Linked DNA regions of Homo sapiens. The protein of the gene in region 2 interacts with the protein of the main gene of each other region in a pairwise test. Each region holds a gene or a part of one and is shown on either strand. Other genes may lie near its edges.

Region 1 (7,000 bases), on a different chromosome or scaffold from region 2:
CACCATGTTGGCCAGGCTAGTCTCGAACTCCTGACCTTAGGTGATCTGCCTGCCTCAGCCTCCCAAAGTAATCCCAAAGCCTGGGATTACAGGTGTGAGTCACTGCGCCCAGCCTAAAGACATGAGATTCTAAAGCTGAACTGCCCAATGTTGTAACCACTAGCCGAATTTGGATACTGAGAACTTTAAATGTAGCTGGTTCTTCCAAATTGAGACAAGATGTAAGGGTAAATACATGCTGGATCTTAAAAACTTAATTTAAAAAATGAAAACCATCTTAATAATTTTTACATTGATTATAGGCTGAAATGACAATATTTTGGATATACTGGGTTATATAGTTTTAAATTAAATTAATTCAGCTATTTCTTCTTACTTTTGTTACTGTGACTATTAGAAAATTTAAAATTATTTAGCTTACATTGTATTTCTATTGGGCAGTGATGCTCTAGAAAATGAAATAGTCATGGGTACTCCATCAGTTATGGAAATAGGCAATGATGGCAGTAAAGCAACAAATACAGATTACCCCAGAAGGTGTTAAGGATTTCATTGTACAATGAAAAACATCATTAAGATTATATCTACTGAATCAGTCATTTTCCTTACGTTGTGTGATACCTTGTTACGAGTTTACTTTCCAAATCTTTTTTGATTTAGTTTAGTTTGTCCGTCAGAGAGTGTTATATTTTAAAAAAAAGTTAAATGCTGCCTTTCACTGCCTGTTGTGTAGCGTACTTAGATTCTGGAAGCAAATATTTCTTAGAGGAGCATTGATAATATGGCCACTTCACTGTTAGTTTTATTGTTTTCATATGAGTATGAGTGAGGGTATGAAAGCTCACAGTAGCTTCTTAAGGTTCCTTCTGACTTAAATGTTCATTATCTTTTGATGAGTGAATGAGCAGGAACTTTGCATTCTTTAGAAACTAGTGTATCACGGCCGGGCGCGGTGGCTCACGCCTGTAATCCCAGCACTTTGGGAGGCCGAGGCGGGCGGATCACGAGGTCAGGAGATCGAGACCATCCCGGCTAAAACGGTGAAACCCCGTCTCTACTAAAAATACAAAAAATTAGCCGGGCGTAGTGGCGGGCGCCTGTAGTCCCAGCTACTTGGGAGGCTGAGGCAGGAGAATGGCGTGAACCCGGGAGGCGGAGCTTGCAGTGAGCCGAGATCCCGCCACTGCACTCCAGCCTGGGCGACAGAGCGAGACTCCATCTCAAAAAAAAAAAAAAAAAAAAAAACCTAGTGTATCACTTTCTTATTTTGCAGTTCAAAATATAAAATCTTTGAGGATGCTTGAATTTCTAGACCTTTATCATATACTTAGAGGTATATTTGCTGATAGTTGTGCATTGATACTGTGATAGCTTCTTATTCTCCCGTGAAGAACTGATCTGAAGTCATGGAGCTTTAGTTACCTGCTGCTCTTATTCCACCTTGCAGTGGCTATCACATTCCTACAGGTTTTCAACACAGCTTCCCATGAAGTTCCATTCACTGAAAGATATAGCTGGCTCCATTCCTTACAGAAAAAAGAAACTAATGCCCTGCTTGCCAACTTTTGGCTGTCTAGAATGGAATGTTATTCTGCACGGGAGGAAGCACGATGGAAAAGGGTTCTTCTACCTGCAGGAAATCTAATGTTTGCTTTGTAGTGAAGCATGCGAAAAGTTGAAAGAAAGGAAGCAAAGGAAGAGGCTTGGTCATTAGAAGTTCAGTTTGTGTGAGATTTCCTTTTTTTCCTTTTTGTTTTTCTCTATCCTGTTATACCATCATGGTATTTTAATTTTTTTTTTCCTAGCTAATGGGTAAATTGCTTTTATATTGGTGTTTGGGACCCACTGTGAATACCATGGACAGATTCACCGGAAAAAAAAAAAAAAAAAACAACAAACCAAGGAGGAGAAAAATGTTGTTTCTTCTACTTACTTCCCATCATTTTGTGAAGGAGAGTCAGAAAAGCTGTTTTCTACACATACTCCCTTCTCCCTCAACCCATTCACAGTGATTTTTGTCAGCAAACTAATATGCCATTGATTTTACAGTTAGGATCAGAAATATGCACCATTCTTGACTTAACCGATTTTTTTCCCCCTGAGAACAATATCATTTTTACACTAGAGAATATGTGCAAAAACTTATTATCTACAAAGCTGAATGTATTTTGCCCTTGCCGGGAACATAAAGGGTTAAATTGAAGGCTCAACAAAGACTGGGATGAAAAGAGGACAAGTTGGGGGGCCATAGTTGTTTCCTGTAGGCATTCACTGTTTTGTAGCCAGTGGCATTTTTTTTTGTCCTCATCACTAGCTCCTTTAACACACCTCTGGGATTTGCTCTGAGCTTGGCTGAACACTCTTGACCTTTGATTGTATAGCAGGGACAGCTTTATTTTATGAAGCTCTTCTGATTCAGACACATTTTGACATGGCCTAAAAAGCCATTCAGTAAGTAGTAAATGCACCCTATTTCTGAGTGGGATGCAGGTTATGGATGTGTTAAGGCTCAATCAAGGTTCTGTTAGGAATTAGGACTGGTGTGAAACTCCAGGATACTGGGAGAGGGTTGAGAGTGAGGCCTGAGGTAAGGATCCGGGATGGAGGAAGAGGCTTGCAATGCCTGTGGTGGACATTATCTGATAAATTTCATTTAGTGATTTCGGCATGAAACAGCCATATTAAAATGCCCTTTCTGGCTTATTAAATAGAAGCTACTCAGTACATGTTTGTTGAACTTAGCTTCTTAACCGATGATACCTTTTCAACCCTGCTTCTCTTCTTCTATAATTTGGGCCCCACAAGTTACCCAGATTATGGTTGACAAACTTGAGTAGCACTGCACATTTTAGTCAAGTGAGTCATATTTTTGAAGGAAAATGAGGTCAAATAAAGACTTGGTAAACATAAAAAGCCCCTTTGAAATCTCCACACAACTTTTCACCATTTGGTTTCTTTTTTGCTCTCTTTTTACTGTCACATGAATTGGTACAAGTTGTTTTAAAATCTCCAGACCCCAATTCCATGGCCCCCCTCCCCCCTTTTTAAATTGGGTTAATAGTCTTTAAAGTCCATTTTAGTTCTAAAACATACTGATTTTAACACCTCATTCACTAAATAAATTGCTTTTTTTCAGGCACTATAATGCAAGATAAATAAAATTGTCTATATTTAAAAATGTATTTACCAACTTTCAAATATAGGCTTGCCTATATTTTAATTGTAGTGTATGCATGATGCAGACCTTTGGGACTATAACCTTTGATTTCAGCATTATAAAATGTCAGGTCCCTTGGCAGAAACCACTTTAAAATGGGTGAGACCTGAACTCAAATCCTTGGCTCTGACAAGTACTGGCTGTGTGACCTTAGGCAAATTACTTATTTTTACCAGGCTTCAGTTTCCTCATTTGTAATATGGTGATACCAATGTCCTTTATAAAGTTACTGTAAAGATGAAGTGAGATAATGGGATGTAAATTGTCTAGCGTGAAGCCTGGCCTACAGGAAACCCTCAATACATGTTACCTAATGCTACTGTCTGAAAATGTGTCCCAGAATCTCTCTAGCCAACATAAAAACACATTTTATGATGTAACTCTTTACATCATAAATTGAGGAGTATTTCAGTCAATAAATGTTTATAAATAAATTAACGGTCAGATGTATTCCAAGTGGAAATGGACCTGACATTTTATTTTTCTTTGCAGATCTTATATTGCACTTTAAACACACCTAAAATTGACATGGAAAGACTCTTAGGAGGACAACTAGGACTAGAAGATTTCATATTTGCCCATGTGAAAGGAATCGAAAAAGAAGTGAATGTGTATAAATCTGAGGATTCACTTGGTCTCACCATTACAGATAATGGTGTTGGCTATGCTTTTATAAAGGTAAGTTTTAAAAAATAACAGTGTAACCTAATTGAGGATAACATTTAAGAAAATCTACCAGGCCAAAGAAAGTTAGAAATGATCTTCAGAGTGAGAGCCCGCTCAGCAAGGATGCATGAATTGGTAATGTTTCACTTTCATTTTAAAAATGTTCAGATGTCAGTTTGTGTTTACTATTTTCTTAATTTCTTCCCTTTAGTTTAAACTTCCCCTAGAATTTAGAACTAACTGAAAGGAAAGTCTAACCCTGGTGCCTACTCATTATCCATATAAGCTTTTCCATGTCTGTAGGTTTTAACATCTGATGAATTTCTGGCTTATTTCCATTGAATTAGTGTTATTTTCCAACTGTTCCTAGTTTTGACTGCCTTATTTACTTCTTTAAAAATGCCCTTCAAAATTTTAGGAAGTATATAAAGTTGGATCTCTGTATCTGTAGGTTCTGTATTAGTGGATTCAACCAACCACAGATTAAAGGTAGTTGAAAAAATGGCATCTGTACTGAACATGTATGGCCTTTTTACTTGTCATTATTTCCTAAACAATACAGTACAACTGCTTATGTAGCATTGCCATTGTGTTAGGTATTATAATCTAGAGATGATTTAAAGTATATAGAAGGATGTGGATAGGTTATATGCAAATACTACACCATTTTATACCAGGGACTTGAACATCAGTGGAATTTTAGTATTGATGGTGTGTCCTGGAACCAATCCCCCATGGATACCCAGGGCCAACTGTAATTCCTTTATTCAAATACAAAGAGAGCGATATAGAGCTTCAAAGGCAAGATAAAAGTTTGAAATGGTGTGAAACTAAGAACTGAGGAGAAAGGTAGTCTCATCTCTTAAAAATAACAACTCTATTATTGTAATAGTTATAATAGTAACAGACTTATATTGAATGCATGTACTAGGCACTTTGCATACAATTTCTCACTTAATTCTCACAATTCTATTTGGTTGGTATTATGTTTTTTCTTTGTATTTATTTTTTTGTTGCAGTATAAGACATTTTTAATGTACAGCTTAATGAATGTTTACATACTTATCCCTGTTTAACCATCACCCAGATCAGGATAAATTGCATTTCTGCCACTCAGAAGGCTCATTTGTGCCCCTTCCCAGTCAATAATCTTTCCCCGCAAAGTAGCCATTATTCTGGCATCTATTGCCATGAACTTCATATAATCATATATTATATACTCCACTATTTTCGGCTTCTTTTGCTCAAAAAGATGCCTATGAGATCCATGGATAGGTACTATTTCCAACCTTATTTTACAGATGTGGAAACAGGCTCAGGAAGGTTAAGTAGCTTGCCCAAAGTTATACAGCTGGACACATTCAGGATTTGGATCTATGAGGTCTGACTTCAGAGCTGGCACTTCTATTCACTCGATTAAGAATTAATGATAGATTTCATGCAACAGGGAATATTTTGTGCCTTTATTTTGTCCAAATCTTGATTTGCTGATGCATTGTCACCATTAAATAATCTTAGGGAAGTTATCTTCTTAACTGTAAATGGGACTTTCGCTACCCACTTGATAGAATGGCTATTTTTAGCTCTGCAAAAGATATGACTGTGCTGAAGGTTGAGTGAGTGACCAAATGGAAAATCTGTGACTGGGAAAGTCATATGGGATTATCCAAGGGAAGCTCAGGACATGAGGCACAGGCAGCAGAGAAGGGCTTGGAAGTTTCACAAACGTGTGTGGATTTTTAAAATCTTAGCCTCTGACATTCAGAGCTTGTCTTTCTATTTTTTAAAAAATGCTTTGTCAAACATGTGCCTGACTCAGAGTACTAGTCACTAGCCCTGTGGAGATATAGGGCATGTTAGCAAAGGAGAAAGCAAGGCATAATCTAAACTGCCAACATATAGTTCAACTTAGAAGAGAGATGCACATTATACTGTATACATGGTTGATGAAATTTTTTAAAAATTGGGAGAGGATAATTTCAAACTTACATAAAGATTGCAATAATAATACAAAGAACTCCCATAAATCATTTATCCAAATCTCCAATTTTTACCATTTGCCATGTTTGAGTTTTTTGTTCTGTCTCATACACACACATATATATATATATACTCTTTACCCCTTAGTACTTCAGAGTGTAATTACTAAGAACAAGGATATTCTCTTACATATAACTACAGTACAATTATGAAATTCATACAGTCTAATATTGATATAATACTTTTAAACTAATCTATAGTTCACATTGTAGTCTTATCAGCGTCCTAATTGTGTTCATTATTTTCCCCTCATACAGGTCCAATTTAGGATCCTGTATTTCATTTATGTCTTTTTAGTCTTCTTTATAATCTAGAATAGTTGTCATGTCTTTTTAGTCTTCCTTAATCTAGAATAGTTCCTCAGCCTTTTATAGGATGTCCCTGAATTTGGGTTTTTCTGATGTTTCCTCATGTTGATAAATAGATTGTGCATTTTTGGTAGGAAAATTACATAAGTGATGCTGTGTCCTTCTCAGTGCACCACATCAGAAGGTACATGAAACTGGTTTGTCTCATTGTTTGTGAGATTAACTTTTGTCACTTGTCTGAGGTAGTGTCCACTAGTCTTTTTCACTACAAAATTATTTTCCTTTGTGATACGTAATTGTGGAGAGATGCTTTGATATCATGAAAATACCCTGTTTTCTTACTTGCATGGCACAAATTTAGTATCTGTTGATGAGTCTTACCTGAATTAATTTTTCCTATAATGGTTGAAAAAATGATGATTTTTCTAATTCCATCACTCCTTATATGTTTCTCTGAAAGCATTTTATGGTAGGGAAAAAGCTGCCCTTATTTATTGTCAACATGGGTACATGACTTCGTGTTTTACTGAATGGTTTATAGTCTGTTACTATCAATTATATTGATGCTCAAATTTCCTGAGACTTGGCCTGCAGGAACCCCTGTAAGTGGGCCCCCATGTCCTTTTGACATGGCTCCTATCATTTTATTGAGTAGGTTCTTACTTTCTAGAACACAACAAGATATTCTAGACCCATCTTGTATCTCCTTTTCCCCTGACCTAGAATCAACTATTTCTCTCAGAAGCTCTGATTTTTACTAGAGATTGAT
Region 2 (4,616 bases):
TTATACCATATGAGTAATAAGCCATGTTTGCCTCAAGTCCTACTGGAGAATAATGCCAATTATCTCAAGGTTTTCCACTTCCATGAAACTTTTTTTATGGCTGCCACATTTAGCAAGTTGTTAAAAAAAAAACCCTGGTTGCTTACTTTAGGGTGAAAACAACTCTAGCTATTAGGAAGCTATGCATCAACATATAATAAAGTTAGCTGAAATCTATGCAGCAACAGGGAAAGTGGTAGACTAAACTCTGTGATCCTACAATTTGCACTAGCACTGATTTGAGAGGACAGAATTCTTCCTTCCTCTCAGAAAGATGAGAGATGATTCTGCCAGAAATACAGGAATCTGCATACTTCCCAAAGAGTAAAATACAAATTTAAGAACCTGACATTATAAAATTGTCCTATTTAATTGATTTCATACCATTTTATTCTGGCAGAGAGCTTGCACTTGGGCAAAAATGGCATTTTTGACTCCAGTCTACAGGGATTTTATAACTTTATCCACCTGCCCAACACAACTATGCCAAGGCCGGGAGTGATGGCTCATGCCTGTAATCCCAGCACTTTGGGAGGCCAAGGAAAGAGGATCACTTGAGCTCAGGAGTTTGAGACCTGCCTAGACAACACAGTGAGACCTTGTCTCTACAACAAACAAACAAACAAACAAAATAAACATTAACTATGCTCTTTGTCACTCAAACTCTCATTGTCTTTTTACATAATAAACACATGTATTTACTCTCAGATATTTTATTTTTCTTAGTCTGACATTAGGTTATGAGAAGTACAAAAGATCCACAAGTACAAAAAAATCTGTATAGCTTTGCGGTAGTTGAAAAAAATGCAAGAGAACAAAAAAATTTTTTGAGTAATATTCATCTCTGCAGATCTGAGTGACAGTCCGCTTGAAACACCGCTGTAAAAGTGGTAAAAAATGATTTCATTGTGATTATGTTAAAATTTTTGATGTCTCTTTTACTTGTTTAGGAAATCTGTCTTCTGACATTTATACTGGATAGTTCTTTTCCTGTATTTTGCTGAAGCTCAATTCCCTGCCTCTTCAGGGCTTCAATGATGACACTTTTGTTTTTATAGTCAGCTAGTGATGTTTTGTCCAAAGGAAGATTCTGACAACAGCTTCAGCAGAAAGAAAATCTGGATATAGGTTTATAGTTATTGTCCTTTCCAAAGTAAAAAAAAAAAAAAAAAAAGTTGAAAAATATTGATGACTTTTTCTTAGTGTTAATTTCTCTTCCTGCAAGGATTTAATTTGAGGATAAATTACCTTTGATGCAGTTTTTTTCCCAAAGTATTTTTAAAACACTTTCTTGAAAAGATGAATTCTTCTACCTATCCCTAGGATTCTGAGTAAAGATGACATATTGGAATAGGAGAAGTCCAGGTTTATCTTTGTACTTTCTTACCTAATATCCTGTTGGACACAGAGAATTGAGATCTCCATGGATATTCAGTAACTCTAGGAATGGCTGAAATTAAAAAAACAAAACCAAAAACTCACTTTATTTAATCATAGATAATAAACACAGTGCCAGAAGGTTATAGACACAAAGGCCAAATGAACAATGAAAAGCCACATCAGAGGCTGCCTGACGGCTTAAGACTTTTTTTTTCTCTGCTTAATAAGAAATAAGTTATCATTGTCATCATCTTCCCAGCACCTCTCCTTTTTCTTCTGCTTGCCCCTCTTGCCTTCCTTGGGAGACTTGTCTTCTCTTGACGTGTGGTAATGTGATGAACGGTGAAAGGGCTTAGAAGGCTTCTGGGTTTTAAAACTGCCAGGAGAAGAGTAGGTTTTGGGGCCCCTGGGAAAATCCTCATCCACTTCACGATGTCTGTCAGCCTTCCTGTGCTTCTCCCAGTTTCTATTCTTGTTCTTCATTTCTTTTTGTGTTTCTTTATTTTCTTGAGGCCACCTGTTGCTTTTCCATGAGGCACGGCCCTTCCTTATATCATGGTGGGGGTTCTCATTTGCTGCTTTTATATAAGGTAGCTTGGATGGCTCTGGGATAACCCCATTTTTCTTGAGTACTGAAAAATATAAAAGTATTTTTGCATATTCAGCAGCTAAACAGTCCATGCTGAGCTTTCCTAAGTGTAAATAACTTAACAGACAGGGAAGCTAGATATTTAAACATGTTAACAGTATGACATCACTCACTAAAAATTAAATAGTTGTAGCTCCAAGTTTCTGATTGCTAAAAATGAAACACATTCAGAAATCCAATGATAGTTAATTATCCTTTTCAACAGTTTAACAAGGTTAAGCAATGGAGATGAGGACCTGTAAGAACAGTAATCATCTTAGCTTTGTGAAGAAAAGTCATGTCTGACCAATACGAGTTTCCCCAATGATGACGAGTCAGCCTTTGAAAATGAGGCAAAGCAAGATTTATAAAATGGCCTTTTGATGGTCTCATATGACATTTCAACCACCCTCTAAAGATAAGGCCTGGCCATAGTACTTTTAGGTGGATGCCAAACTGCCCAAGAGATTATTCCTCCAGGGTAGAGATCACTGGCTTTGAGGAGTGTGTGTGAGTGCACGTGAGTGCGGGTATCTTAGAGGTTTTAGTGATAAAGCTGATGTTAATGTTTTGTCAGAGCTTGACACGCTTAATACGGATCTCTGATAGTGATTCTGATACGGGTAGGTGGGAGATGAGGTTACAGTGAGAGATGAAAACTAGCAGTCAATAGAATCTTTAAAGATTAAAAAAGTGGCCAATAAAAACTTTTAGCATAGACTTTTATTATAAAAATTTCAAAGGATCATAGTGAACACCTCAAAGTGGATTTATGCTACAGACGTCGATACAACTAGCTAAAAAAAAACCAAAATGGGTTTTCTCTAATTATAAGTTATAACTGCTCATTATAGAAAACCTGGAAAAAACAGAAAAGTACAAAGAACATAAAAAACAGAAAGCACATATAATCCTTTAATCTAGAGATGACATTTTCATGCAATTCTTTTTAATCTCTAATTTGGTTGCCTAATCATAATCTACAACTACTATAACTTCTCCACACAGCTGACCCTTGCACAATGAGTTTGAACTACGTGGGTCCACTTAAATGTGGATTTTTTCAACCAAATGAGGATTGAAAATACACCATTCCACAGATTAGAAACTTGTGTATACGAACGGCTACTTTTTCCTATAATCAGGTTCTGCAGAGTCAACTATGGGACATAAGTAAGTGCAGATTTTGGTAAATGAGGAGGCTCCTGGAACCAATATCCAGGGATAGCTGTAGATGACATACATTTTATATTAAATATGTAAAATATGCAGGAGCTGGGAGAGTAATAACTCTATTTTCCTCAGAATTAGTACCTTCATTTTGGAAAGGTCCTGAACTAAGAATCCAGAAGAGTAAAAGGCCAAAAGAGTCAGAAAATAAGGTATAGAACAAACTAAAAAAATACAGAACTGTTTTGTTTTTAAAGCAAGAAAGATAACTTGGAAAACCACCTTGAAGTGAATAACAAGAAAGAACAGAGGTAGAGAAAACTTAAATGATAAGATATTAATTTGGTGATAAAGAACAATGTTTGCAACAGTAAGTACAGAAACCACAGAGGTGGTTGTGAACTTGGAGCTCTGCTTGCAGCGGTGGCCTCTAACAAATGACTTCTTCAGGGAAGCTCCAGGAATAACTTAGCAGGAAAGCCTTTCTTTCCATAAAAAAATACTGGAGAAATACAAATGGAAAAAAAAATAATTACCTGTCAAACAGAAAAATCTCAAAGGAGCCTTTAAAAACTCTGCCTATATAGATGGACAGCAATATTTTCTGGACATTTCCTAAAATGATCACTGTAAAAAAATGTTTACTGTGAGGAGATTGCAACATGGGATTATTTCTGAAGTGGGTGCTTGGTTTCTGGAGATCAAGAAAGTTCCAGTCTCTTTGGTAATTACTAAAAATACTTTCTATGCTAACCAATGACCCCCAAAGCAGGCAAAGACAGTACAAACAAAGAAATTTAGAAACTACTGCAAATGTGATCTAACAAGAAGTCTAGCAACATACCTTTTATTTTTTGTTTTAGTCTCTTTTCTCTCTCCTGAATTTCATATTTGTCATCATAGTAGCAGATGAATGGAGATACTGGAGACGGGTCATACACTTCTCTTTCTGGACATTCCTATAAATTGTATGTAAAATTATGATGTCACATGGTCACACTGTTCAAAAACCTTTTTGCAAGATTCTGGAGCATGTTAATTAGAAATGAGCCCCATGTCACTGGTACCTCATGTGGTGGCTGTAGGATATGGTCCTTGCTGGGGTGTTGGGAGGGTCACCCAGCCCTAAACCCCACTGTGTTATGATATTCTTTCAAGCTTGAGTTTTCTTCCCTTACTTCTTTACCTATGAAACCCTTCGTATCTTTTTTCAGCCTTTTCTGCCTAACTCCTTTCACAGTCTGAGGTAGCAGCCTTGCCGCTCTGTTAGTGGGTTTATGTTATTCGGCCTCATGTTAGTATTACTCCTTTGCTTGTCCATCACTTCCAACAGCCTTCTATCAAGTTCTTTTCCATCTCTTCTTCCTATCCCCAAAATGTGGGTATAAGTTCTAAGCCC

Evidence for each region.
Region 1: the proteins of ZCCHC7 (region 2) and GIPC2 interact in binary tests that used the Homo sapiens proteins (3 or more experiments, as listed by UniProt).

What each region holds. Positions count from the first base shown.
Region 1 is NC_000001.11:78,076,966-78,083,965, forward strand, and holds part of GIPC2 (PDZ domain-containing protein GIPC2), read left to right. Parts: intron 1-3,709; coding exon 3,710-3,895; intron 3,896-7,000.
Region 2 is NC_000009.12:37,354,270-37,358,885, reverse strand, and holds the end of ZCCHC7 (zinc finger CCHC domain-containing protein 7), read right to left. Parts: intron 4,177-4,616; coding exon 4,062-4,176; intron 2,052-4,061; coding exon 1,618-2,051; 3' UTR 737-1,617; downstream 1-736.